Homo sapiens: one gene and its partners. The protein of the gene in region 3 interacts with the protein of the main gene of each other region in a biochemical or structural test. Each region holds a gene or a part of one and is shown on either strand. Other genes may lie near its edges. The genes, in order: PECR, NR2F1, ISL1 and HNF4A.

Region 1 (7,026 bases), on a different chromosome or scaffold from region 3:
CCCTGGAATAAGGTGATAGACTATATTTTTCTTACCACAAACTAAAACATTAGGACATTGGTCTTGTAATCTTTTGGAAGACATGAATCTGTCTGAGATTCTGATGAAAGTGGTGGCGTGTCTTTTGAGAAAAAGACATCATATACTTAAAAATATATATACACAATTATTTTGTTGTATTGGAAATGGATTTCCTTCAGTGAAAGAATATTAAAAATCTTTTTCTTTTTTTTTTTTTTTGAGATGGAGTTTCGCTCTGTCGCCCAGGCTGGAGTACAGTGGCGCAATCTCGGCTCACTGCAACCTCCACCTCCCAGGTTCAAGCAATTCTCTGCCTCAGCCTCCTGAGCAGTATTTTTAATAGAGACGGGGTTTTACCACGTTGGCCAGGCTGGTCTTGAACTCCTGACCTTATGATCCATCCCCCTTGACCTCCCAAAGTGCTGTGAGCCACCGGGCCTGGCCATAAAAATCATTTTTATAATTACTTTTTCCTCTTTATTTTTTTATGCCAGAATCAATGGCTATTTCCACGACATTGTCATATTTTTACTAGAGATGGGGTTTTGGCATGTTGGCCAGGCTGGTCTTGAACTCGGACCTCCAGTGATCTGCCCGCCTCAGCCTCCCTAAGTGCTAGGATTACAGGCATGGAGGCCCCGCGCCTAGCCTCCAGTTTTCTTTCTAGTCAGAAGGCCACTGTTTTTTGTTTTTGGTTTTGGTTTTTTGGTGTGAACTATGTCTTTTTGGCATGAACTTTGAGGCATGGTTTTTAAAATGATGATATTTTTGCTTTTTTTTTTTTTTAACGAAAAATACAGGTGTTTTCTTTTTTACTTCATACTATGCCAGATGGTAACCAAAGATAATTTAGATGTTCATTAAAAAATATTTAAAAGACGAAGACAATTTTAATTACTCATAATTAACATTATTTTCAGAAAAATGGCTAAAAATCTTACAAACTTCCTTCCAGTCCATTTTTGCATGTATAATCCATATTTTTTTTTTTTTTTTTTTTGAGACGGAGTCTTGCTCTGTAGCCCAGGCTGGAGTACAGTGGCACGATCTTGGCTCACTGCAACCTCTGCCTCCCAGGTTCAAGCGATTCTTCTGCCTCAGCCTCCTGAGTAGCTGGGATTACAGGCACATGCCACCATGCCTGGCTAATTTTTGTATTCTTAGTAGAGACAAGGTTTCACCATGTTTGCCCAGGCTAGTCTCGAACTCTTGACCTTGTGCTCTGCCCGCCTCAGCCTCCCAAAGTGCTGGGATTACAGGCGTGAGCCACTGCACCCGGCCCTGCATGTATTTTTTTTTGAGATGGAGGTCTTGCTCTGTCACCCAGGCTGGAGTGCGGTGGCGCGATCTTGGCTCACTGCAAGCTCCGCCTCCCGGGTTCAAGCCATTCTCCTGCCTCAGCCTCCCTAGTAGCTGGGACTACAGGCACCCACCACCACACCCGGCTAAGTTTTTGTATTTTTAGTAGAGACGGGGGTTTCACCGTGTTAGCCAGGATGGTCTCGATCTCTTGACCTTGTGCTCCGCCTGCCTTGGCCTCCCAAAGTGCTGGGATTACAGGCGTGAGCCTCGGCACCCCGGCAAATATTTTTTATTAAAAGTAAAATTGGGCCAGGCGCGGTGGCTCATGCCTGTAATCCCAGCACTTTGGGAGGCCGAGGTGGGCGGCCACCTGAGGTTGGGAGTTCGAGATCAGCCTGACCAACATATAGAAACCCCATCTCTACTAAAAATACAAAATTAGCCAGGCGAGGTGGTGCGTGCGTGTAATCCCAATTACTCGGAGGCTGAGGCAGGAGAATCGCTGAACCCGGGAGGCAGAGGTTGCAGTGAGCTGAGATGGTGCCATTGCACTCCAGCCTGGGCAACAAGAGCGAAACTCCATCTCAAAAAAAAAAAAAAAAGTAAAATTGGAATGCTGTTAGGTTTAGAATTCTATTTTTCCCAATAATATGGTATGCATTTCTCCAAGTAAGTCTTCAATAGCAAGATATTTATTTATTTATTGAGATGGAATCTTGCTTTGTTGCCCAGGCTGGAGTGCAGTGGCTTGACAGCAGCTCACTGCAACCTCTGCCTCCCAGGTTCAAGTGATTCTTGTGCCTCAGCCTGCCACGTAGCTGGGACTACAGGTGTGTGCCACCATGCCTGGCTAATTTTTGTGTTTTTAGTAGAGATGGAGTTTTACTATGTTGGCCAGGCTGGTCTCGAACTCCTGACCTCAAGTTATCTGCCGGCCTCGGCCTCCCAAAGTGCTGGAATTACAGGCGTGAGCCACTGCACCAGGAACAATAGCAAGATATTTAAATGGAAGCATGTATATTTCATTGTTATTGATTTAACTATTTCCCTCATATTGAATTTTTAGGTAATTTCCATTTTTTCACTTCTCAAGACTACATCCTTGCATGAAAATCTTTGCTTGACTCTGTTTCCAAACATTGTGGCACATGTGGTGGCATGGCACATGCTTGTAGTCCCAGCTACTTGGGAGGCTGACACATGAGAATTGCTTGAACTCTGAAGGCGGAGGTTGCAGTGAGCCGAGATCACGCCACTGCAATCTGGCCTGGGTGACAGAGTGAGATTCCATCTCAAAAGAAAAGAGAAGAAAAAAATTGGCTAACATTTTCTTTTTTGCTCAATTTGGGTTTATATAACAATGTCTTTCACTTCCACAGGATTTTGACTTTTCCTTTTTCTGAGAGGACACAGAAAGCTTTAGCTCACAAAAGCAGGATATTGTAGGCAGAATTAGATCTCCTTTATACCTTTGACAGGTGCTGTTAGGCAGAGAGAAACCTGATTTCATCAAGGAAAACCTAGCATCGTCAAGTTGAATTCATATCAGATGTTTTTTTATCTTCAAGTTAATCATTCACTTTCTGTTACTACAGTAGAACATAAATTAGGTATAGTAGATAAAATGCAATTAGGAAATGCCGGTGGAAATTATGACCCAAGACAACATTTTTTCTTGCTCTAGTCTAGTCTAACTAGCCTGTTACCAACACCAGGGACCAAGAAGGTGCTGAATAAATGTAGTATTCTGAGTTGAAGATGGAAAGGGATCAGTATCAGCCTAAGCAGGAACGCAGCATACTGGGGCTACAAGCCTCTGATGTTGAAAGAACTCCTTATCCACAAGCTACTTCTATACCTATTCTAAGCAGGTCAGTTGAGCTTTCTGCATCTCTCTAGCTACATATAAACAAAAATAAAGTCTATTGAAATGATTTAGCATGAAAGGCAAGGATTATATATAATATTTTTCTAGTTTATTATAAGGTAGCATAAGAGGTTTGCAATAAATTAAAACAGTATAGAAGTGTATAAAAGAAAAAAATGAGCTTTACCCATTCTGCCCTTTTTCTAAATTCCCTTCCTGGTGATTTTCTACAAATTTAATGTGCACATGTATACACACGTATATATATTTTGTTTTCTACAAAATTGGGATCACAGTATTCTTACTGCTCTGTAATGGTTTTTTTTCCTACTTAAATATCTTGTTTTTTCTTTGTTTTGTTTTGTTTTTTAGAGACAGGATCTTGCTCTGTCACCCAGGCTAGAGTACAGTAGTGTCATCATAGCTCACTGCAGCCTCGAACTCCTGTCTGAAATGATTCTCCTGCCTCAACCTCCCAAGTATCTAAACTATAGGCATGTGCCACAATGTTTGGCAATAAAAAAATTTTTTTAGAGACAAGGTCTCATCCAGGATGGTCTTGAACTCACCACAAGCGACTCTCCAACCTTAGCCTCCCAAATTGCTGGGATTACAAGCATGAGTCACCATGCCTGGCCCATATCTTGTGTTTTTCAATGGTAGTATTGTAGTCATATCTCATTCATTTTAAAGCTGCATAGTATTCCATTGTGTGGGTCTGTAATAACTTATTTAACCATTTCCTGAATGGCCATTTAGGTTTTTATTTTACCCAGCATTGCATTGTTTTTCCCTGTAATATGTTTGCACCCTAGTTCAAGTTTGTCTATAGTGGAAAGTTCTAGCAGTGAAAGTAAATGGACTTGTAAAGTTGTATTTCAGTGCATCTTTACTTGTAGTAGACAACTGTCCTGAAGTCTTGAGGTTTCAGATAGTAACTAGTTATAATTTAGTAAACTTCTATTTAGATAATCCATGTGAATCATCCTATTTATATTCTCAACATATTTTTTACTCGAGGTCTTGGACAAAGTTAGGCATTAATCACCTTGGTGTTCTTGTTTTCTCTCTCTCTCTCTTCCTTCCTTCCTTCCTTTCTTCCTTCCTTCCTTCCTTCCTTCCTTCCTTCCTTCCTTCCTTCCTTTTTTTCTTTCTTTCTCTCTCTCTTTCTTTCTTTTCTTTCTTTTCTTTCTTTTTCTTTCTTTCTTGACACAGTCTCACTCTGTCACCCAGGCACAATCTTGCCTCACTGCAACCTCTGCCCCCAGGTTCAAGCAATTCTCGTGGCTTAGTCTCCTGAGTAGCTGGGATTACAGGCGTGTGCCTCCATGCTCAGCTAATTTTTTTGTATTTTTAGTAGAGGTGGGGTTTCACCATGATGCCCAGGCTGGTCTTGAAGTCCTGAATACAAGCGATCCACCGGCCTTGGCCTCCCAAAGTGTTGGGATTACAGGCATGAGCCACTGCACCCAGCCTAGGTAAAGTTTTTCATCCCTGCCCTATAGAGCCTATGCCCTACTCTGGGAACTAGAGCAAAAAATGTGTATGTTGAAGGCAGAAATATCAAAGAAAGAAGTGGGTGGAGGAAGTGGTGGCTTGTCCTGGGGTGCTTATTTCTCTCCTTTCCATCTCACTGATAAGCTCAGCTATTTCTCCTAAGTGACAGAAACCTAACTGAGTGTTGGATTAGTCTAGAAGTATATACAGTCATGTGTCACTTAACACAGGGAAATCTTCTGAGAAATACATCCTTAAGTGATTTCATCATAGTGTGAACATCATAGAGTGGTAGGCAAACCTAGATGGTATAGCCTACTATATACATGGTTTATATGGTCAATAGCCTATTGCTTCTAGGCTCCAAACCTGTACGGGAGGTTACTATGCTGAAGGCTGCAGGAAATAGTAACACAAAGGTAAATATCTGTGGTCTAAACATATCTAAACATACAAAAGATATAATAAAAATATGGTATTTTTATTATAAAATTATATAAAAACATACAAAAGATATAATAAAAATAAAAGATATAGTAAAAATATGGTATAAAATATAAAAAATGGTACACCTGTATAGAGCACTGTATAGGACACAGGAGCTTACGGGACTGGAAGTTGCTCTGGGTGAGTTAGTGAGGGAGTGATAAGTGAATGTGAAGGCCTAAGACATTATTGTTTACTATTGTAGAATTTATAAACACTGTACACACAGGCTAAACTAAATTTATAAAAAAATAAAGTAATTGCAGCTATGACATTACAGTGGCTACAGCACCACTGGATGATAAGAATGTTTAACTTCCACTTTAATCTTATGAGGCCACTGCCATACATGTGGTCTATCATTGACCAAAACATTGTTATGGGGTGTGTGACTGTGTTTCAGTTATTTTTCCTGCTGGAAGAAGAGGGCCCTCCTGGAAACAAAAGGAGAAAGGAGTAAGCTTCTCCTAACAGTATAACGTATGTTTTTGTTGCACATTATATATTTTGATAAATTAAATTCCATTTTAAAGTTAGGCAAGGCTTACAAGGAACTTATGGTGAATCTTTCCAATTTTTGCTTTATAAAACCCTCAGATTGCACACGAGAATTTCCAAAAGTTGTTACCATTTTTAGTTTACTAAATTATAACCTAAACTTTAAACATAGTTTTTAAAATTGTCTTATTTTGTACAAGCTCTATGGAAAACAGTATGGAGATTTCTCAAAGAATTAAAAATAGAATTGCCATTCAATTCAGCAAACCCACTACTGGGTGTTTACAAAGGAAAATAAATCACTATATGAAGAAGACACCTGCTCTAGTATGTTTATCACAGCACTATTCATAGTAGCAAGTTAAGAATCAACCTAAGTGTCCATCAGTGGATGATTGGATAAAGAAAATATGTTATATATACCATGGAATACTACTCAGCCATGAAAAAGAATGAAATCTTGTCTTTTGCAGGAACATGGATAGAACTGGAGGCCTTTATCCTAACTAAAATAATTCAGAAACAAGGTCAAATGGTGCATGTTCTCACTTATAAGTGGGAGCTAAAGAGTGGGTACACATGGACATACAGAGTAGAATAACAGACATTGGAGACTCTAAAAGGTGGGAGGGTAGAAGCAGGGGAGTGAGGGTTGAAAAATTACCTGTTGGGTACAGTGGCCACTATTCAGGTGATGGATACACTAAAAGCCCCATGTAACAAAACTACACTTGTCCCCCCTACATCTATAAAGATAAGAAATAAAATAAAGTGCCTTATTTTCATATGCAGTAGCTAGCTTATCTTATACAACTAAAATAGTTCAGGCCAAATGGAGAGCCTTTGTACTCTGTGCCTTTGTGAACTTTATTTATTCCACCTGTATATGCTGGACTGTGTGTTAGCCTAACAAATAGAGCAATTACAGGGTCCCTACCTCCCAGGGGATGACAGTGAGTGGAGCAGACTGTTAAATTAACAGGTAATTATGATACAGTGAAATGCTGTATTAGGGTGAAAACAGCCTATAACTGTATCACCTCACATAGAATTTAACACTGAAAAACCACTGCAATCCAGCCTGGGCAACACAGTGAGACCTCATCTTTAAAATATATATGTAAAAGAACCACTTAACAGTTCATAGGTAGTCTTTGCTTTTGCATGGCATTGTGGCATTGTAACAATGATCATGCAAGCTGAAACCATTCAAAGCAAAAATAGTCAATGGGAAAAAGTACAATTATTTCATGACCTTCAAAAATTTTTGTCAAAGTGGCACCCAAACGGGACTTTCAGGGACAAACAGAGACCTGAAGGGACCTAAAGAGGCCTGCAGGGACAAATAGAGATAA
Region 2 (7,026 bases), about 42 Mb from region 3:
TGGAACCATGTTTGCTGCGCTTAACAACCTGTCCTCGGCCTGCAAGGGAGCATCTTTCTGGCCGTGCTCATTAACTTTTGCCCCATTTGCCTCTGATCTGGGGGTGTTCAGTACCCCTTAGGAAATATGCAGCCTGAAGGCAGTTCTTAAAGGATTCCTGGAGTCCCCTCTCAAACCCAAACCACCCCAACCAGAAACCTCCAGGAGAACCTAGATTGTGTAGTGAACAAACACATGGGAGGGGGTAAGGAATCATGGGCTGGCAGTGCCTGGAATCAGATGAAGCCCACGCTTTAGCAATATAGGATTTCAGATCCGTTATCTATGCAAGAAAGGACTCTGCAGCAAATCCTTGGTGAGGGTGTACACTTCTATCTATACCTTAGATCAAGTAATTGAAAATTGGTCACATCTCTGTAAGCTGTATAATAATCAGGAAGAATATGACTCAGTTACTCCAGGCTGCAGAAAGGCGACATCTTCAGCAATCAGACACAAAGCTAGGCTACAGGCAGCAGCTGCTGCTGCTTCAGAACTGGGGGGGTAGGGGGGGATGTGGGTGGTGGGGAGTTGAGGGGGGACTTGGGGGGAGATAAGCTTTTGGTGGCAGGACCAAGGGAGAAAAAGGCACCTCCGCACAATGACAGCACCTCAAAATCTGTGTGCTTAGTTCATGTCAACCAAGGCCCTTCTTGGTCCTCTAAAAGTATTTCAGGACAGCAGATTATATTATATCAACTAACTAGAGGCAAGCATAGGGAGGGAAAGATGGAATAAGAGGAATGGAGTAAAGGCATCCTCTCCTAGTTCAAATACCCACTTGTTTCTTATATTAATAATAAATATTAAAAAAAAACCAGTAAGATCACAGAGGAGCCCTTAGCCAGTCAGGAGGTTGACTAGAGATCAAAGGCAGAATTTGCTAATATATAGATCTGGGAAAAAATTGATGCATGGCAATGCCCCCAAAATGACATTGTATAATTTTGAATGGGCAAGTGTGACCCTAAGAAGACACAACAAATGATTCAAAGTGAAACCTGTGTCTGCTGAGTTTCTGAGCTTTATGACCTTATATTTCAAGAACTGGGATTTACAAAGCATTCTAACACCTTCATCTACAAGGCTATGGCCTCGAGCAAAAATACAAATAAAACTAGTGATAATTCAAGAACTTCTGAGGCAAGTCCCCTTTGACCTCAGATACAGACTAGGTTCCTCTCAGATGTCTAATTACTCCAGCCAGCCAGTTGGGTATATCCACACTGGTCTGATATGGGAAGCCAAATGAGACTTTATGGCTATTAGGGCCAGGGCAGCAAGAGCTCTGTGGGGCTTTGCTGCTTAGAGAGGGGACCGTGAGTTTGGCCCTGCTTGCTAACCTGGCCCTGATGAATGACCCTCACTCAGACCCAGACCCATAATTACATAGAGCTTGCTTTACATGCATTATCTGCCTGCATGCTTATGGATCATTCTCAGCCCTAGACAATGCAATGTGAAAAGGGCCCCTTGGTATCCCGGCAGATTTTTTTTTTTTAAGATCCATCTGGCATCCCCTCAGCTCAGTAAAATATCTATCTGACATTTATGATTAGGGTCCCTGGAGTACAAGGTCACTTCCCAACTCCCAAACAGGCCGCTCCAAGAGAGACAAGAAGCCCAGGAAAGGCCTGCCTGGGTCCTGTGCTGGTTGCTTCCATTTCTTCCCTCCTTTGGAGGTGAATGCCTGTAGCTGGGCCTGCCTGCCAGGTACCAGCCAGCTAGCTCTGTGGCTTCCCTCCGGCAGGAGCCCTGGTTCTGGCCTGGCTTCCCAGTCTGGAAATTCATTCACCCCTTTGCAACAGGATTCCCTCAACTGTGGACAGAAGGTATGAGCTCCCAGATCAACTAGGGGGTTGTGGTGACAAAGCTAGGTGACCAGGGGGTGTAATACAGTATATATTTATGCTCCATGAGTTATACCCCAGATAAGAAAATGAGGCAGAATGTGCAAAATCCATGTCACACTTTTTATACGGTAGTGTCAATGTGGGAACTCTCAATATTTCTTCTACAGTGTATGGAAAAGAAATTATGTAAATAAATAACCATTACTGCTCAGGCCCTCCTGGCCTAGCCTTTGTAGTGCAGAGAATGTATTTCATGTTGTGCATTCAGAAGAGTTTAGTGTTCAGGAAATATAGATGTAATCAGCTGCCATAACTAGAAATCAAAGTTATTATTGTGCTGAAAATGGATTTATTGTATTTATGTTAACTAGATGGCTCCTTTCAGAGAAAGTCTCATTTATTTGAAGGAATATTTAGGTGTATGAACTAATGAATTTTTTAAAAAGTAAGTTCAGGTCATGACCTAGTCCTTGGATGCAGTCCAGAATATTAAGGATTAAACATACCATCCGGAGGCCAAATGTGAAAACCACCACGGGGGACCCCCGTGCCAGCTTCAAATACTTAGCCAAAGCAAACCACATTGGACAATATGTCTAAAACTGTCTTTTCCATCATTCAAAGTTTGCTTAAAAGTTGGATGACTTTGAGAAGGCTTCCCATGAATTCCCTTCTGGCTAGCAATCAAAACAAGTTTAGTCAAAAGTGGAAATGTGTTGCATGGGAGGGGGGAGGTGAATTACTACTGACAGCTCTATTTCCATTTTCAGATATTCTGCTTGCAATTTTCCAACAAAATAATGTTATTGTTCATTTCTAGGCACTCTTTGCACCTTGAAGACTTGATTCAAGAAACTTCCTTGGAAAACTTTTTAAATGAACACTTTTCACAGGAATGTTTTAGTATGGAAAGTTAAAAGGAAAGCATGAATAATTCCACAGTGTTTCCCTGCAGCCTGCACAGTCCTCACCTCTCTCTGGGAAAGGGCATGAGATTAGCAAAGTCAAGGGGGTTCAAAGAACCTTAGGGGGTGTAAGGAAAAGAGAGGAGAGACCTTTCCTGAGAAAACGTCTGTCCAGTTCCAAGTCACATTTCTGCTTCAAGACACCTCGCTGGATGAGATTTTCAAACCCCAGCTTCCCTGACACTGGCTTGCTTCCTGATGAATTTGGCTAAAGAGCCTGGTAGTAGAGAGCCAGCCAGGCCCCAGGCCTGCCAGAGCTGAGGCAGCCTGGTTGCTGCTTCCCAGGCTCTTTGTCACTTTTGAAAAACACGTTTCCATCAAGAAGACTTATTAAGATAAAATGCATTCAAATACGGAGGAGGCTATTCCATAAATCTTCCATTTGTTTTAAGGTTTGCACTTTATCCTCTTGGAAAGAATAACTCCCTCTCTCACTAGCAGACCTGCATTTGCACTGAAAGTAAAAGGGGGGCAGTCCAAGTCCATTGCTCTGGCCACCCTGCATACAAATGAGATGCTCTTGTCTAAATAAATTATCTGCTGTTCAGATCGATATTAATACTACATTTGCTACATTACAATATTGTGCAAATTTAGGAGTCATTTTAATACAATGTAAATACAATTCTTCACACATGAAAGCCAAGAAATATTGATAGATTATACCATTGCTTACTGTTCAACAAGGCCTTATGAAAGGGATTTTGCTATCCCTGTTCAAGAATGGTTTTAATTTGGCCATTGGAAAGCCTGGTTCTAGGATAGATTTATTAGGATGGTTTATTTGTTCTCCGAATGGAGGAATTAAAAACAATACTGCCAATAATGGTGGTAAAACTGCAGCTAACCCTACTCACAGTGGGCAGGGCCCAAGACCCAGTCTAAGCAGCACTACTTGCCACCAGCCTCCTCTCTGGCTTTGTCTCTATTTCTCCCCATTACCTGCTGTCCTGGGTGTTTATATGTTTCCCTCTTACAGGTTACAATAATAAAAAGCGGGGATTGTTCTCGGAGGCTCAGACCAGAGCCCTTCAAAGGAAACGTTAATGCACTTTTCTGGAAGTTAATTTGAACCATCTATCATAAGAGAAATTGTTAACATGCATGTTACCACTGCCTACACATAATTTGATATTTTTTAAGGCACTCTTAAATTTCCAGTGTTCATGTGTTTTGCATAGCTTTGGAATTCATCTTCAGGCGGGGAATCCTCCCATACTTGCGGGTTCTACAGCATTGCTTTTGTTTTTTATCTTTCTTGTTTAGATCGAATCCGTTTTTTACGACCCTCAATAACCTCACCAACTGCAAACATGAATGGTTTCCGATAAGGGAAAATCAGGCAGCGATAAAGCGGGATTATTATGATTTATTTGTGCGTATTCTTCTCTTTCCACCTCTCTCTGTGTCTCTCTGTGTCGGGAAATTCATTCAAGGAGAGTGCCACACAGGGTAAGAAGCCACATTCCCACGTTCTCTTCCTTCCCTCGCCTCCCCCAGAAACGCTGAGCTCTGGCTCACACATAACACGCACCACACACAGACACACACACAGAGACACACACACACACACACACGCGCGCGCGCGCGCGCAGCCAGACGGATCCACAGCACCGCCCCCCCGCCTCAGACACACACCCTCGGCAGCCGCGGCCCCACGTAGGGGTCCGGGCGACTAGGCCCGGCCGCCCGCCGGCCGCACCCGCGCCGCCTCGGTTCCCGCACCGCCGCGCTCCCAAGATGGCAGCGGCGCGGCCAGCCGGTCACCGCGCGGGGGTCACAGACCCGGGCCAGGCTCAGTGTCCAGCGAGGGCCCGGCCCGCCCCGCACCGGCCGCGCGGGAGGCTCCGAAGGCCAGGCCCGGGCGGCGCGGGGCCTGCGCTCGCTGCCGGCGCGGCCTGCCCTCCCCGCGACCGCAGCCTCACCTGACGTGAACAGCACGATGGCTTTGAGGCAGCTGTACTCGGCTGAGTCGACGTGTAGCGCCTTGAGCTTCTCCACCTGCTCCTGGAAGATGCGGATGTGGTCCATGAAGGCCACGACGCGGTCGGCAGACATGGGCGAGGCATGCAGGCCGGCGGCGGCCAGCAACGGCGCCACGTGCAGCGGCATAGAGCACTGGGCCGCGTTGAGCACGAACAGCTCGCTCCAGGTGAGGCGTAGCAGGGACACCTGGTCGGTGATCTGCAGATCCGGGAAGAAGGGGATGTTGCGGGCCCACTCGACGGCGCTGAAGAGCAGGCGCGCGGCCAGCTCGCAGATGTTCTCGATGCCCATAATGTTGTTGGGCTGCATGCACTGGCTGCCGTAGCGCGACGTGGGGTAGGGCTCGGCGCGCAGCAGCAGCGAGATGTAGCCGGACAGGTAGCAGTGGCCGTTGAGGGGGTCCCCGTTGGTGAGTGCGTACTGGCCTGGATTGGGCTGGGTTGGAGGCATTCTTCCTCGCTGAACCGCTGACAAAAAGAAAGAGAGAAAAGAGGCAATGTGCATCCAGGGAGCTTGCGAACATTGCCGCGCCGCAGCGTACCCAACACAATGCAGAAGCTCTTCCCGCAGCCACACGCGCCCCGCGCATCTTCTCCGGCTCGCTCTCACAGTCCACACCGCTAGGAGATCTGGGGTGAGGCCCTCCAGCTCCACAGCTCAGTGTGTCCAGCCACTGCCTGAGCCCCTGGCCACGTCAGCCCCGCCGGAGCTAGGCCTGACTCCAGGGCCCCAACCCTGGCAAGGTCAAGAAAGTGTCATCCAACCCCTAAGCCACCACGGGGGAACACACAGATAAATGAAACCCCACTCACCCCTCCAGAATGGAAAAAAAAAATCAGGGTTAAAAAAAGGCGAAACCGGAGAAAGGTTGTGGTTCTAGGCAAATGCCTAGCGGCCTCCTCATTTGCAAGCAAGCAGCGTTTTGCTGATAAAATGTTTCCACATTCTCTTAAAATGCTATAGAATAATTCTTAAAATAGACACAAGTTACATATCCTACTAACCACTTACAACTTTTGAGTAGAGAACAAGTATCCTGCACCCCTCCCTTCTCCCCTCCTCCCCGTCGCCCCATACAAAGTTCTCACTATTAAAAGCAACAGAAAATTGAAAATTTTCAAGAAAAAAAGTTGAACTTACAGTAGCCAAACATTATTGAAAAAAGTAGGAAATATAATTAATGTCTGTCCTGCGCGGTGCCACTGCAACCTGCAGCCAGCTTTTGCCCAGTGAATGCACGAGCTTTCAACTGCAAAAACACTGGATTCATTAACCATCTGAATGCAAAACGTAAGCATGCTTTGAGTTCTTAAAGCTGACCAAAGTTTTTTTTTTTTTTTTTTTAAATGTGTATGTTTTACTTCAACAGTGCCAGCGTTTTAAATTGCCATATAAACAAAGACAACTTTAGGAAAAGTTAGGGCTACTGAACTCTTCCCCCAACAAATTAATATAGATATGTTCATGTACATGTAGCTATCTTATTTCAGGTTTTGTTCTATTTTCTTAAGTTTGCTTTGATTCTAATTTTAATGCAAGTTCCAGTGCAATTGAAGCTCTTGAAACATAATGCCTAGAATACTTTTTTCTAATTATAGTTTTGAACTTGGCAGTTATTTTTCAATTAAGTGAGAGTACAATTCAAAGTTTTTTTTTTTTCAGATGCCTACAAAATCTCCCTGGAGCTAGAAATGAAGTAGTCATATTTGTCTGCTCCTTGAGATCTGAAGGAATTCAATTTCTTTTCTTGTGGCATATAAAATATAATTTTAAAGTCAATTACAAGAAGGAGTAATCTGCATTCTGCAAAATTGACTGGTTCGCTAATTTGACTATAAGACATCTTTAATGATTGTCAAGAGATAAACTTTAACTGTAAACGGCTAAATATATTTATAAGAAAAGTACTGCATCTCTTGCCACATGAACATGAAGCATATCCAAATACAACATCAAAAGTTGTGTTTTTTTTTAAAAAAAACAAACCCATACAACACAGGGATTAAATGATGTGGAAGCTCATGCTAGCTGCAGTCTATGCATTACGGCCAAATCAGAAGGATCGGTAAATGCCGTTGTAAATTGTAATTTGTATGCAGTATTTAAGCAGAGGGTGGAGTTTGATGAAGAAATAAAACGAGTATCATGCTTTAAAAAAAATGACACAACTATGAAAGCACGGT
Region 3 (7,026 bases):
AAAGGACACTGGAATAGTATTCATAAAAAGATTATAAACTCATCATATTGTATATGTAGAAATGTTTGTGTAGATAGATATGTAAAGATATTCACATAGATAACTGAATTTTAACAGGCTTAGAGAAAGCCTAGAGGAGAAAAACTTGGGAAGAAATCCTCTCACTTTCCCATCTTCCAAAAGATCTCTGTTTTAACTGAAACTGAATTCCCAACATTATGTTGCATTAAATTATTTAAGAACAAATGTGTTTCCCACTGTAAAATGGCATCACAACTCTACTATGCATGCTCGAAATAAAATTATCCTGCTGGCTACATGTTGCCCTGGGAGTAGGTGAGCTCTCAGTCTCTAGGCATCAAAGACTCTCTTCTTCAGTTGGAAAATCCGTAACAGGCTCAGATCCTTTGACAGGAGATTGAGAGGAGGCTCCACAGAACAAAGATTAACTCCTCAGCAGGCTCACAGCTTGGGCATTCTTCCTTGTTGGTCCTGCTGCCTCTTGGCCTTTCTCTCTCTCTCTCTTTAAATCAGGCTCTTCCTTCCAAAATGAGACCCATATATTATGACATCATCCCATTCTGACTCCTTCTTTTAACCCTAATATCTGACTCCTTCTTAAATATCTGACTCCTTCTTTTAACCCTAAACGCATTGTACTGCTGTTGTAAACCTTCTCTAACTATGCCCACTCCTGCCTCAGCTTCCCTTCCACTGCTCTCATCTGACACTAAAGTTTCAGAAAGTGCAAACATTTGGCTGCCCTGAAGCCTCCCCTTACCTTCCTCCTGTGATTCAGGATTCGCTCAAATAACTCAACAGATTAATGAGCTTAGAATAATTTTTTTTTCCTAGTTCTAGAGCCTACATTTCTTTCTACAGTAAATTTTTCCAATATGAGATTAAGGGACTTCTAGCCTCTGCACCCACTTAGCATTTGCAAACACAAGCCTGGGGCCAAGCCCTTTTAACCACTTGCCTCTGGCCAATTACCTAACTGTTGACATTGAGAAAGCAAATGCCCTCCAGGTAAATATGAGGGTAAAAAGCTAACCTCAACTAAAGCTTCATTTCCAAAAAAGGGAACAAGGTTTCAGGATAGATCTTTACATTTTATAAAACAAGATTCTATAAGGCTGATTACTCTTTAAGAAAAAAAAATCATCTATATAAATATAGCATATTACAAAGGACATATATTTATTGTTCTTATTTATCTTGACCCCTTAAGCCTTTTGTAGGCAAAAAGTGAATTAATTTTCTCCTCTCTGGATGTGGAAAACATGTTAAGGTTTTCACAGATTAAACACTTTACTTCTGATTGGTAGAGCTCATGTCCCTTTTGCTATACATGGTACACACTGTGTGTCTCTATGACATTTGAACTCATACACTTGAAAACATTTAAACGGTCCTACATTTTAGATTAAGACATTCCCAGCAAGGGATACTGTAACAAAAAGTATTCATCTATTTGAATAATCTTTATTAATATATTTGAAAATTGTACCCAGACACATGCCTGCTGTTTATTGATAACAACACTGATTGTGTATTATAGCATTGATTATATACTACAATCGCCTTGATTTGGGTCCTATATATCCCATTCTCTAGATGCTCAGGAAGGATAAACTTACTAATTGCTGATTGAAATGCCAAGACGATTTCCTGAAGTCCTTGACAACTCTAAAATTCTAAGATGTATGATTCTCCAACACTGTACATCTTCTGGCACATGCTACCTAGAGTTAGGTACCTTGAAATTAATCCTTCAAAGAAGGCCTGATTGATAGAAAATTCAACCTATATGGTCAAATTATGCAGTCTCATTAAAAAAAAAAAGATGCCAAGAGGTTCGTTTTCCCTGCATTTGTCTCCCTTCTCTTCATTACCCACCTCCTTGGTTTCTCCCCAACCCTGAGCCCAAGAAGGCACCCTCCCCACTGAATCTTTCAATGTGTGACAGTTAAACCAGAGTCTCCTGTTGGGAATTCAGCCTCTTCCATCTGGGAGCTGACACTTACCAGTTGCTGAAAAGCAGGCTGATCTATGTCACTCTGCAAGGCGAAGTCGCTCAGTACTTTCCAAGGTGGCTGGTAACTTTGTACTTCCACTGGGTTAGCCTGTAAGCCACCGTCGTGTCTCTCTGGACTGGCAGCCACCATGGGAGTTCCTGTCATCCCCTGGATATTCTGTGAATAGGCCCCCCAACCAATCCCAACATGTTAATGAGCAAATTCCCTCCCTCCGTTGTCTGCACAGGCTAAGCAAATATACCCTGGTATTATCTTATCTATATAGTGGTCTTTATTGACTCAGTTAATCCGCCGTACCTACGGATATTAGTTAGAATTCAATTTGTTTTATTGTTTTGTTTTTCTGCCTCTGTGGGCTGGACTATTAGGTCTGCATGGACCTTATTAAACCAAATTCTACTTTGATTTTCTTCTTCCCCCTTACCTTCACAGCTCAGCCCAATTCCTCCCCTCTGCCTTCTCAGACCATAGCTTCCCAGAACTAAAAAGCTGAGGTAAGCAGGGCTTCCCTTCAGCCTCTAGACAGGGTGGTTTTCTGAGCAGTTTCAGTTAGCTGCAGATTTTTTCCAAGCCGTTCTCCTCAAGGAAGAGCCAGCCCCCCACTCCATCCCCCCAAAGCATTTGGGTCTGGTTCCTATTGTGCTATTATGCACTAACCAACTCAGAAAGTGCCCTGGCCCAATCTTGGCCAGCCTGCCAAGTTTAATGACAGCAGATTTTATGGCATTTAAAAATAGGTCCAAAGCAGTAAAAAAAAAAAAAAAAAAAAAAAAAAAAAAAAAAAAAAGAAAAAGAAAGAAAAGAAAAAAAGGAAGAAAAGAAACTCTAGCTTAACTTCACCAGGAGGCCTGCAGAGTGGGTGCTTCCGTGGGACCAAGATAACAGTGGATACTGGTGCGAGGGGCCTGATGCCTCTGTGGAGGCCTGGGCTTCACCTGGAGCAGAGGGTGATCTGGGCATGCGGGTCACCTTGGGGGAACTCGCCAGCCTGAAGGCGCAGCGGCCGACCTTACTTAGAAGTGCGGTGCGCCCTGGGGGCTCACAGGGTGACCTGCCCACGGAACCCCTGGATGTAGGCAGGAATCCAAGGTATTATCCCTCCCTCTTCTTGTGTACGTGAGGAACTGACGATCTGAATGTTGGCAAAACCCGGGCCAAACCTCGTTGCCGCCTGCCCTCAGAGGGGAGGACGGCGTTTCTCCGGTTCACAGGTACAGGCGAGGTGGAAGGGCATGAGCCCACCCACGAGGTTGGGACCTGGATGCTGCTCCCCCGGCGCACGGAGCCTCCCAGCTTCCCCGCCCTCAGCTGGCGGCCGGCGCCGGGTAGCCTGTCCCCCGGGGCATGGGTAGGGGGGTAAGGATGAGGGGCAGCCCCGGCCAAACTCCTGCCCAGGAGCAGGATTGAAAACCGTGCGATCCTGCGTACCAGGAACGCACCTCGCACGCTGCGTCTCCTTCCCCCTCGCATTCCCTGCCCGGCCCCAGAGCCACTCACAGTTTTGTCATTGGGCTGCTGCTGCTGGAGTTGCTTCATCATGATGCTTCGCTTCTTGTCCTTGCACCGCTTGTTTTGAAACCAGACCCGGATCACACGGGGACTGAGGCCCGTCATCTCTACCAGTTGCTCCTTCATGAGCGCATCTGGCCGCGGGTTTGCGGCGTAGCAGGTCCGCAAGGTGTGCAGCTGCTTCTCGTTCAGCACAGTCCGCACGCGGGTGGTCTTCTCCGGCTGCTTGTGGACGTGGGGCCGCAGGGCTGGCTGCCTGGCGGAGATGGGCTCCGCTGCGGGGCAAGGAGCGCCGTGAGCGCTGGGCTGGAGGCTCGCTTGCCGGCCCGCCCGCGGTCGCGCGCTCGCTCGCTCGCTCGCTTGCCCGCCCGCCCGCCCGCTTACTTGCTCGCCCGCCCGAGATACTCAGGACAATGGCTAGGGTTTGCAGCCTCAGCACACAAAGCAGGGGGCGGCAGAGGTGGGGGCGAAGAGGGTGAAAGGGAGAATAAAATCTTCCTCTCTAATCTGCAGAGGTCTTTGCTGAGTAATCCCGGCCTGAAACGCAGCACTCGCCCCTCCTCGTGTCAACAAAGTGTTAGCCAAGGGAAGCAGGTCTCAAAGTCTGTCCCCCTGTTCACAGCAGGGGTGGCATTTTTCAGCACTGTTTCTCCTCCATTCTCACCTTTCCTTGTGCCCAGACTGGGCCCCAGTTACATTGATTACCACCCTCTCCAGGATCAGAATTTTCTCTTGGGCCAAGGCCACAGAGGGTACCAGGGAAAGGAACGCAGAGCACTTCAGTGACAGCCATAAATACTACACCAGCAGGGACTTCTGCAAGGGGAAGGTCGAGAACTCTGCCAGAACGCCTTGAACTTCAGTCCGAGAGGACAGTCATGTGAAGGGGCTGAAGAGATTCGCTATTTCTGCCATATCTCCAATCCCTGCTCTTAGTATTAAATCTAAGGTAATACATGGATGTTCCTGAGATGGGCTGATCCCAAGCAGTGGAAAACGGAAACTCTGTTGAGCTGCCTAGGCTCTAGATAAACGGTGGCTGGGAGATGTCCCCCGCCTCCCTCTCGGTATTTTAGCTTCCTCTGTGCTTCCCCACAAGCAGAGTGCAGGCTCCACTGAACAGGAGCACCACCCCAGCCGTGCCCCGGTGCAAACTAGTCACAAATCCCCCTGAACAGAATTCTTAGAGCTGCCAGAAGGCAGAAGGGTAAGGGAGGGCTATAGTTTCCTCACCTTCAGTGTTTAGTGGGAATTGATACTTTAAAACTGCAAAGGGGTAGATCTATTCATGGCAGGAAGTCAGGTTTGGAAACACTGTCCACCTTCTAACCCACTGCTTTGGTCCCGGCCAACCTTGCTGTGTTTCCACTCCTCTTCCTTGGGAATGAGTCCTCTTATCTACATGATACAAATCCTGCACCTTCTACAACCCCCTAGGGTCAGGCCAACACCTATGGGGTCAATTTAGAGCTACAACCATGGGCCTGAAGATGAAATTCTCACCAAATCATATAGAATGAATGATTTAAAGAAGCAGGCTCCCTTTAAAAGGCAATTACTGCAGATAAGCTTGTTGACAGTTTTATATTACAACTCTGTGCAATGGCCTGCAGTTTTTAAAACTGTATCTTTTCAGTCCTGTTCTCTCACAGAAAGATAAAAAAATTAAAAAAAAAATTTCGAGTGTGAAGCAACTCACAAGGAAAAAGGATTTGGGAGACTAAATGACTTCAGGCCACCTAAGCTTCCTTCATTGGGTTAAAGGATGAAGCTCCAGGGACCCGGGGCTCCGCCCCTTTAATTAGGCAGCAGGAGAATACCTGGCTGGGAGCTGAAGCCCGTTTTCAGCAAGCCAAGGTTTGGAGGCCAGAGCGAACTGGAAGTAATGTTTGGGCGTGTGTATACACGTGTACACAAGTGGTGTACATTTATGTGTAACCATATAGAGACACACAGACGGTGTAGGTGTGCTCGGGGAATCAAGGGAGACAGTGAGTGCATTGAACCTTGCTGCAAAGGAGCAGAGCACAGCGCAAATTGCATACAGAACACTTCATTTAACTGCAGGCAAACACTACGACCACCCCTGTAGCTACCATAGTTGTTGTGGCCGCTGGCACACAGGCTGGCTTAACCTGGCGCCTGCCTACCCGAGCCGGGCAGAGGAGTACCTGCCATTTGCAGTGGCCGCGCTGGATGCAGGGGACTGAGCGGGTCGCCAGCGCCTAGACTGGCCCTCTCCACCACATCGTGGTCTGCTCGGCAGAAGAGACCGTCCTCCCGAAGCGCAAATTCGTCCCCAGGGATGAGCTGGCGGCTGCAGGCCACACAGCGGAAACACTCGATGTGATACACCTTGGAGCGGGCACGCATCACGAAGTCGTTCTTGCTGAAGCCGATGCTGCACTTGGCGCATTTGATCCCGTACAACCTGTGCGGGGGAGGGGGGAGCGGAGGCGGCCCAGAGCGGGGAGAGAAGTACAGGAAGAGGGGGTCACTTCAGGCCGGCACTTCCCTGGCCCAAGATCCCGGGCAAGACGCCCCAAGTAAACAGCATTTCCAAACAGAAGTTGGAAACAGAAGGACAGAAATGAAACCCTGCTCTCTCCTTCCCTGTCTCTCTTCCTTCCCCCATCTCTCTTTTCCCCTCCCTCCCTCCTCCCTTTCTTTTACTCCCGTTTCCTTTCCGATGAACCTCTGTCTTAGTTGGTAACTCTTAGCTCAAAACACCTAGCTTGTACCACAGAAAATGTATTGATGGGTTCCAAACTCGGGCTGCTGCTCTAGCAATCAATCCCAGTGTTGATCTTGCAGATCTTGGCAGGAAGGAATCCAGAAAGACTCTGGTGGCCACCGACACCAACACTTTCACTTCCCTATCCCACAATTTCTGCTGCTAGAAATGTCTAAAACTGCAACAAAAAGTCCTCCTTCCAAGAAAAAAGGAGGTAGGAGAAGGGGATTGTCACCCCACTCGGTTTGCAAACACTCACAAATAAACAAGCAGAATAACAAAATGAAACCTCTGAGAGTTTCCACATCTCCTTTTGCACAAGTACTTTCCAGTCTTTCTCCAACTAAAGATTTTCTTCAGGCAGCAATGTTAACAGAAAATTTCCTCTCCATTCTTCCTTGTATTATTATTTTTTTAAAAAAATCTGCGTCTGTTCCCTCAATCTTTTTCAAGTTGCTGAATCATCTACCTCATTTCAATTTTCTTGAAAACCATGACCAGAATGAAAAAAATGCAAAGACCCGCTTCTAAGGTCTTTCTCACTCCTGGCCTTTCCTTACCAAGGGACAATCTTTATAGGTTCCATCTAGGCTGCACTTCCCTGGCCCCTTCTCCATCTTTCAGGAATAACAGAAGCTGGGGCATTCCTACGAACAGAAAGAATGGAAGAGAGAGGAAAAGATCCACATAACAGGAGGAGGCATCCTGCTTCTCCAAGGAGAGATGTGGAAATCTAACTGTCCA
Region 4 (7,026 bases), on a different chromosome or scaffold from region 3:
ATCTTACTTTAGTTATAACTTATTGTTTTAGTCTACTTATAGGTCTAGTAAATTTTAAGAATTTCATTTTCTCCAATATTTTACTTTGAAAAATTTCAAACTTTAAAGTTTGAAAGACTAGTATAGTGAGCACTGATGTATCCCTTCGCCTAAATTCACCAACTGGTTGCATTCTGTCACATTTGCTTTATTGCTATCTCTGTATCTATCTATGCACTTTTTTATTGAAACATTTTATGTAAAAAATTGTAAAGGCCAGGTGCAGTAGCTCACACCTGTAATCCCGGCATTTTGGGAGGCTGATGCAGGAAGATTGAGGACAGGAGTAGGAAACCAGCCTGTGCAACACAGCAAGACCTGTCACTACAAAAAAATAAAAATAAAAAATTAGCTGGGCATGGTGGCATGCACCTGTGGTCCCAGCTACTTGGGAGGCTTAGATGGAAGGATTGCTTGAGCTTGGGAGGTTGAGGCTGCAGTGAACCATGATTGTGGCTCACTGTAGCCCACATGACAGAGCAAGACCCTGTTTCAAAAACAACAACAAAACAAAAACAAACCAAAAAAAAAAGATACTTTTTTAAATTGTATATTTACACTTGTTATACATATTTAACGTGTGTGTGTGGAGGGACGTGTGAGCATGACCCTACTGCACAGACGATCAACTGTGTACCAACTAATTCACGCTCCCCTTTACAAACTTTACAGCTAGTCCCGCCCCGCTAGGGACCACATCTTCCAGACCCCCTTGCATTTGGCAAGGGCCATGTGACTAGTTCTCACCAATGGAATGTGAGTAGAAGTGAAAGTGTCTTTCTGGGCTAGGGTGACCTTAGGGGTCCCTGGATGACTATGCCACAGAGGTCAATAAACTTCTAACTTAAAGTCTGCATTTGCTTGTTACATAAGCTATATTGTCTGAACTAATATAATCCCAATAAATTGAAGGACCGGCTGGGCACGGTGGCTCACACCTGTAACCCCAGCACTTTGGGAGGTCGGGGCAGGTGGATCACGAGGTCAGGAGTTCAAGACCAGCCTGGCCAAGATGGTGAAAGTCCGTCTCTAGTAAAAATACAAAAAGTAGCTGGCCGCGGTGGTGGGCACCTGTAATCCCAGCTACTCAGGAAGCTGAGGCAGAGAATTGCTTGAACCCAGGAGGCGGAGGTTGCAGTGAGCCAAGATCGTGCCGCTGCACTCCAGCCTGGGTGACAGAGCAAGACTCCATCTAGAAAAAAAAAATAAAAAAAAAATTGCATGACCTATTCCTGGGTTAAGATTGCAGTTTGAAACACACTGGTGTGGTCTTCTGATTTTCCAAATATTTTTGAACTGTGGAGACCCTCCATTAAATATTTCATTTAAAAGTCAAAACAGAGTGCCGGGTGCAGTGGCATGAGCAGGTAATCCCAGGGGCTGGGAGGCTGAGGCGGGAGGATTGCTTGAGCCCAGGAGTTTGAGGCTAGCCTGGGCAACATAGCGAGACCCCTGTCTCTAAAATAAAATAAAAAGAAATATACAAAAGTCAAAAAGAAGTGTCTCTGATGGAGCCAGAGGTTGAAGGGTGGGGAGAGGCTAAGCCCTAGTCCATTTGAACACGTCCCTACCCACATTACCCTCAAAGGGAACCCTGCAGCATCTTTCCTGACTCTTAGGACCCAGGGAATACTGTGTGACAATGGCTGAGCCAGATGGTTGTCATACCTCCATTTCTCAAAAGAGGAAATGGAGGCTGGGTGCTGTGGCTTACACCTGTAATCCCAGCACTTTGGGAGGCCGAGGTGGGAGGATCACAAGAGGCCAGGAGTCCAGCCTAGCCAACATGGTGAAACCCATCTCTACCAAGACTACAAAAATTTGTCAGGTGTGGTGGCACACACGTGCAATCCCAGCTACTTGGGAGGCTGAGGCATGAGAATTGCTTGAACCCAGGAGGTGGAGGTTACAGTGAGCAGAGATAGAGCCACTGGGTGACATTGAGACTCTGTCTCAAAAAAAAAAAAAAAAAAAAAAGAGTAGATGGAGAAACAGCAGGAGAAGGACTTGAGTGAGGTCACAAACAGCTACCCAGGGCCAGGGCCAGAGCCATCTCCCAGGTCTCTGATGAGGATAGGTCTGTCCCCTCCCTTTCTATGCCTCTCATCTGCCTCCTCCTCTGTGAAGGAGCCACACAGGCCCCCATCTATGAACCAGCACCCCCAAGAGGAGACCCTGGGCATCCCAGGGCCCCAGAAGGCTTGCAACAAAGCCTTGTCCTTAGTCTCCAGCCAGAGACAGTTGCATCCTGGGACCAGTTATCTATTCCTTACTCATCTCTGTTGTTTCTACAACAGCCAAAATGATGCTAACACCTAGTAAGCATCCAGTCCTTTGCATATAGTAGATGCACACACTATAGGTATAATAATAATAATCGTTCAAATTCACATAGCACTTTCTATGTGCTAGACACTCAGCACTTTACAAATATTGACTTTATGTCTCACAACAACCCTGTGAAGTAAATGGTATTATCATCAACCCCATTTGACAGATGAGGAAACTGAGGCAAAAAAGATTGGGTCGGCCGGGCGCAGTGGCTCAGGCCTGTAATCCCAGCACTTTGGGAGGCCGAGGCGGGCAGATCACTTGAGGTCAGGAGTTCAAAACTAGCCTGGCGAACATGGTGAAACCCCATCTCTACTAAAAATAAAAAAAAATTAGCCAGGCATGGTGGCAGGCGCTTGTAACCCCAGCTACAATCCCAGCTACTCAGGAGGCTGAGGCAGGAGAATTGTTTGAACCCAGGAGGCAGAGGTTGCAGTGAGCCAGGATCATACCATTGCACTCCAGCCTGGGCAGCAGAGCAAGACTCCGTCTCAAAAAAAAAAAAAAAAGAGAATTGAGTCATTCACTCAAGGTCACACAGCTAGTAGGTGGTAGAAGGTGGTAAACTCCTTGGATGCTATTATGACATAATAGCTGAAAGAATGAAGATTTGGTGTCAGACTAGATTTTAATCACCTATTTGCAAGGCGATGCAGGGAAACGTGACTTAACAACTCTGAATCTCAATTTCTTTGTTTATAAAATGGAGATAATATTTCCTACTTGGATGGGTTATTGCAAGGCTTAAAAGGGAGAAAACATATCAAATAGCCAACATCTTGCCCATTACATAAAAGGGGCTTAAATGAAAACAAATTCCTTTCGTTATCATTGACCCATCCTTATGCTACAGGCATATGAGTCAGGAAAAATGGAAGGCACAATTCCTTCACTTAAGCATCTCAGCATGCTTTTTTTTTTTTTTTTTTTTTTTAAGACAAGTTTCCCTCTGTTGCCCAGGTTGGAGTGCAGTGGTACAACCTCGGCTCACTGCAACCTCCACCACCTGCGTTCAAGTGATTCTCCTGCCTCAGCCTCCCGAGTAGCTGGGATTACAGGCGCCTGGCACCACGTCCAGCTAATTTTTGTATGCTTAGTAGAGACAGGGTTTCACCATGTTGACTAGGCTGGTCTGGAACTCCTGACCTCAAGTGATCCACCCGCCTTAGCCTCCCAAAGTGCTGGGATTACAGGCGTGTAATCCACAATAAGCCACCATGCCCAGCCTCAGCATGCTTTTAGGAATAAGATTAATCAATCATGAAACAACCAGACAAGTCTCAAGATACTTTCAGTAAAGGATGGAATTAATTGCAGTCAAATATAAGTAAAATCAGAGCAGTGTGTGGCCAGGCTCCAGGCCTTTTCATATGCTGTTCCCTCAGCTGGGAACACTCTTCCCCACCGTCTCTTCTCCCGGCTGACTCCTGCTAAACCGAGGTTCCAGCTTAGATATCAGTCTACTCCTCCAAGGTCAAGAAGTCTGTGACCCCTTCCCCTTCTCCTAAGTCCCTCTGTATCCCACAGTGCCTTTGCTGTCCTTATCATGGCACTCTGTCTTTGGTTGCTGCTGGCTTGTCTGTCCTCCTGCCAAACTGAGCACAGTTTAAGATCTGAAGCAAAGTTGTTTTTTTTGTTGTTTTTTTTTGGTTTTGTTTTGTTTTGGTTTGGTTTTGAGACATAGTCTGACTCCTGTCGCCAGGCTAGAGTGCAGTGGCGTGATCTTGGCTCACTGCAACCTCTGCCTCTACCTGGTCTCTAACTCCTGACCTCAGGTGATCCACCCACCTTGGCCTCCCAAAGTGCTGGGATTACAGGCATGAGCCACCACGTGAAGCAAAGTTTTATCCTCCTGTGTTTCCCCAGTGCCTTACAAAATGTCTTAAATACCATAAGCCTCCAGTGGAAGATTGTTGAAGAAATGAACAAATGAACAATGAATTAATGAATACGGGAGGCTTCTGGGTTGAGGCAAGATGCACTCTGGATATTTAGTTCCTCTGTTTACTAAATGGGAGAAAGTAAGGCAATGGTTTCCATACCTCAACTGAACTGCATACCCTAAGTCACACAAGGAGCTCAAAAAATTACAGACTCTTGGAACTCACCCCAGGAGACTGATTCACTGGGTCTGGAGTGGAGCCCCAAAATTGTTTTAAAAAGTTTCCTATGTGCAACCAGGTTTGTGAATCATAGGGGCTGAAGACTGAATTGACGTAGGATGGGAAGGTGATGTGGGAGGGGAGATAGGGGAAGGGCTGGAGAGGGGCCATATTTTAAGAATGAAGGGTGGGAACAGCCATAGCCTGATATTGGACACGGTCCCATAGCCAGCCAGCATCTGGGGTCCTACTCGATTTTGGGCCTATCCACCCTTCACAAGGACACGGCATGTTTGTTATAGCTTCTATTACCTTTTCTCTTTCATTAGCTCATGGAATCTTCACAACAACCAAGGCTCATTTGATGGGTGAAGAAACTGAGGACCAGAGAAGTGAAGCAAAGCACCATCATCATAGAGCTTCAAGGGGCAGAGCCACATCACCAAACTGTCTCCGACAATGGCCTCTGATCTGTCCTCAAGCTGATGCTATTGGTCAAAGGGACTAGGCCTACATAGCTAGGAAAAATTAGGCTCACCTGGCACTTAAAAACAGATATACAGTATTGCCCTGATGGAAGATTGTTGACATCCCCTATCTCTTCACTTGTCCTGTTTAGAGCACTTGAAGATGCTGCTATTCCAGGCTACCTCAGCCCACCCCTTCTTATCCATCCATTCATCCATCTTTTCATCAACCCACTCATCACATCATTTGTCCATCCATCCTTCCCCTAACCACCTACCCATCTATCCAGCTACTTATTCATCCATTTATCACATGCACCTACATATCTTTCCATCCATCTACTTACCCATCCATGCATCATCCTCCACACCCAACCATCCACCCATAACATCTTTTTATTAATCCATCCACCCATCTATCCACCCAGCCATCTCCCCAGTTACTCATTCATTTGTCTCATCCATCCAGCTATTTCTCCCTCTATTCCATTCATGCATCCCTCCACCCATCTATCACATCCATTCATCACATCACATTCATTCATCAGTCCATTCACCTATCCACCCACCTAAACATACATTTATTCATCCATCCATCTTCCCATTCATTCATCCACTTAATTAATCTTCAATCAAGGTCTACATGGGATCAGGCCCTGTGGAAGGCTGGACTATAACAAAAAGAATGAGATAGATACAGACCTTTCCTTTAAGGAGATTCGAGGTACTTACGGAAATGAGCAACTACCAAAGAAGCAAAATAAATAACCAAGGGAAACTTGTTAAAGGGAAAATAAGGGTAGAAAAGTAATAAGGCCAGGAGTCAGGTTAGCACACAGATATGCATGTTTAGCATCTCATCCTCAGAGTTACTCAGGGTAGTACCAGATTGGCACTGAGCAAGATCCTGGCACTCAAAGCAGAACAACACAAGAGTCACAGTCTACTCTACTCCATTGTGGTAGACACTCCCCAGAACTACCTTGTTCTCCTATAACACAGTGGGGTTATATGTGCCCCAGGGTACATTTGGCTTTCTGGAGACATTTTTTCTTTGGCAAAACTGATGGGAAGAGATGTTACTGGCATCTGGGGAGTAAAGGCCAGGGATGCTGCTTAACATCCTACAGTGCACAGGACAGCCCCTCACCACAGAGAATCTTCCAGGCCAGAAAGTTAACAGTGCTGAGGCTGAGAAACTCATTTATACCAGAGCCTCAGTTCTGTTTGGAGCAGGAGTGTGCCACACCCCAAGAGAAAAATCACTGGTCTAGGTCCATCTTGGCTTTCCCATCTCTTTCCACTACATACTTGTCTTCCCAGCTTTCCTTGAACTAGGGGAGTCTGCCAGGAGGTTTCTGGGGAAGTTTTGCTTTTGGATAAAAGAAACAAGGGCACTGAGGAAAACCTCTTCTCCTCCTGCCTCCAGCTTCAGACACGTAAGTGCAGACATGACAGCTGAAGCTGGGACAGCCAGTTTGGGTTATAATGGGGCAAATACAAGGACCAAAGACAACGCAGTGAGGAGGGCAGAGAGGAAGGAAGGCAAGAGAGTGGGATCTGGCTGACATTGATGATCATCATTGTAGCGCTGTTTTAAGCCCATCATTTCACTCATCCAACAAATGCTTATTGAGCATTTCTTCTGTGCCAGTCACCATGTGAGACATAGTGAGACAAACAAGGCTGAACAAACTACCCAGGTCCCAGAACTCACGGAGTTTATAGTCTGGTGGGGCAGCCAGACACCACAATTCACACCAGCAACTATCTGATCAGAGCGATGACGAGAACCGCAAAGCCAAAACCAGTGTGCCGTGGAAGCACCGGAAGTCCAGGGAGGGCCAAGTCCACCCAGCATCACCACACCAAAGAGCAGCTCTTTAGAATCCTGCTAAAGCTCAAAAACATGAAACCACAACGAGGATTTCTTGCGTGCTTGCTCTGGACCCAGGACTGTTCTAAGCACTCATGGATCCTTCCATTTGATCCTCACAACAGCCATGTCTTCCTCTGCCTCTAACTGAGGCTCTGCTATGTGCCATGTCCCTGACCCACCAATGCACCTCTACTATAGTCATCTTAGG

What was found.
Region 1: the proteins of ISL1 (region 3) and PECR form a complex in vitro, tested with the Homo sapiens proteins (one study listed by BioGRID).
Region 2: the proteins of ISL1 (region 3) and NR2F1 form a complex in vitro, tested with the Homo sapiens proteins (one study listed by BioGRID).
Region 4: the proteins of ISL1 (region 3) and HNF4A form a complex in vitro, tested with the Homo sapiens proteins (one study listed by BioGRID).

Annotation. Positions count from the first base shown.
Region 1 is NC_000002.12:216,071,802-216,078,827, reverse strand, and holds part of PECR (peroxisomal trans-2-enoyl-CoA reductase), read left to right. Parts: intron 1-7,026. UniProt on the Homo sapiens protein: Participates in chain elongation of fatty acids. Catalyzes the reduction of trans-2-enoyl-CoAs of varying chain lengths from 6:1 to 16:1, having maximum activity with 10:1 CoA. Has no 2,4-dienoyl-CoA reductase activity.
Region 2 is NC_000005.10:93,586,201-93,593,226, reverse strand, and holds part of NR2F1 (COUP transcription factor 1), read right to left. Parts: intron 6,129-7,026; exon of another isoform or gene 5,997-6,128; coding exon of another isoform or gene 5,984-5,996; intron 5,311-5,983; coding exon 4,783-5,310; intron 1-4,782. UniProt on the Homo sapiens protein: Coup (chicken ovalbumin upstream promoter) transcription factor binds to the ovalbumin promoter and, in conjunction with another protein (S300-II) stimulates initiation of transcription. Binds to both direct repeats and palindromes of the 5'-AGGTCA-3' motif.
Region 3 is NC_000005.10:51,386,443-51,393,468, reverse strand, and holds part of ISL1 (insulin gene enhancer protein ISL-1), read right to left. Parts: exon of another isoform or gene 6,869-7,026; coding exon of another isoform or gene 6,843-6,868; intron 5,980-6,842; coding exon 5,720-5,979; intron 3,824-5,719; coding exon 3,537-3,823; intron 2,196-3,536; coding exon 2,028-2,195; intron 1-2,027. UniProt on the Homo sapiens protein: DNA-binding transcriptional activator. Recognizes and binds to the consensus octamer binding site 5'-ATAATTAA-3' in promoter of target genes. Plays a fundamental role in the gene regulatory network essential for retinal ganglion cell (RGC) differentiation.
Region 4 is NC_000020.11:44,358,697-44,365,722, reverse strand, and holds part of HNF4A (hepatocyte nuclear factor 4-alpha), read right to left. Parts: exon of another isoform or gene 4,802-7,026; intron 1-4,801. UniProt on the Homo sapiens protein: Transcriptional regulator which controls the expression of hepatic genes during the transition of endodermal cells to hepatic progenitor cells, facilitating the recruitment of RNA pol II to the promoters of target genes. Activates the transcription of CYP2C38.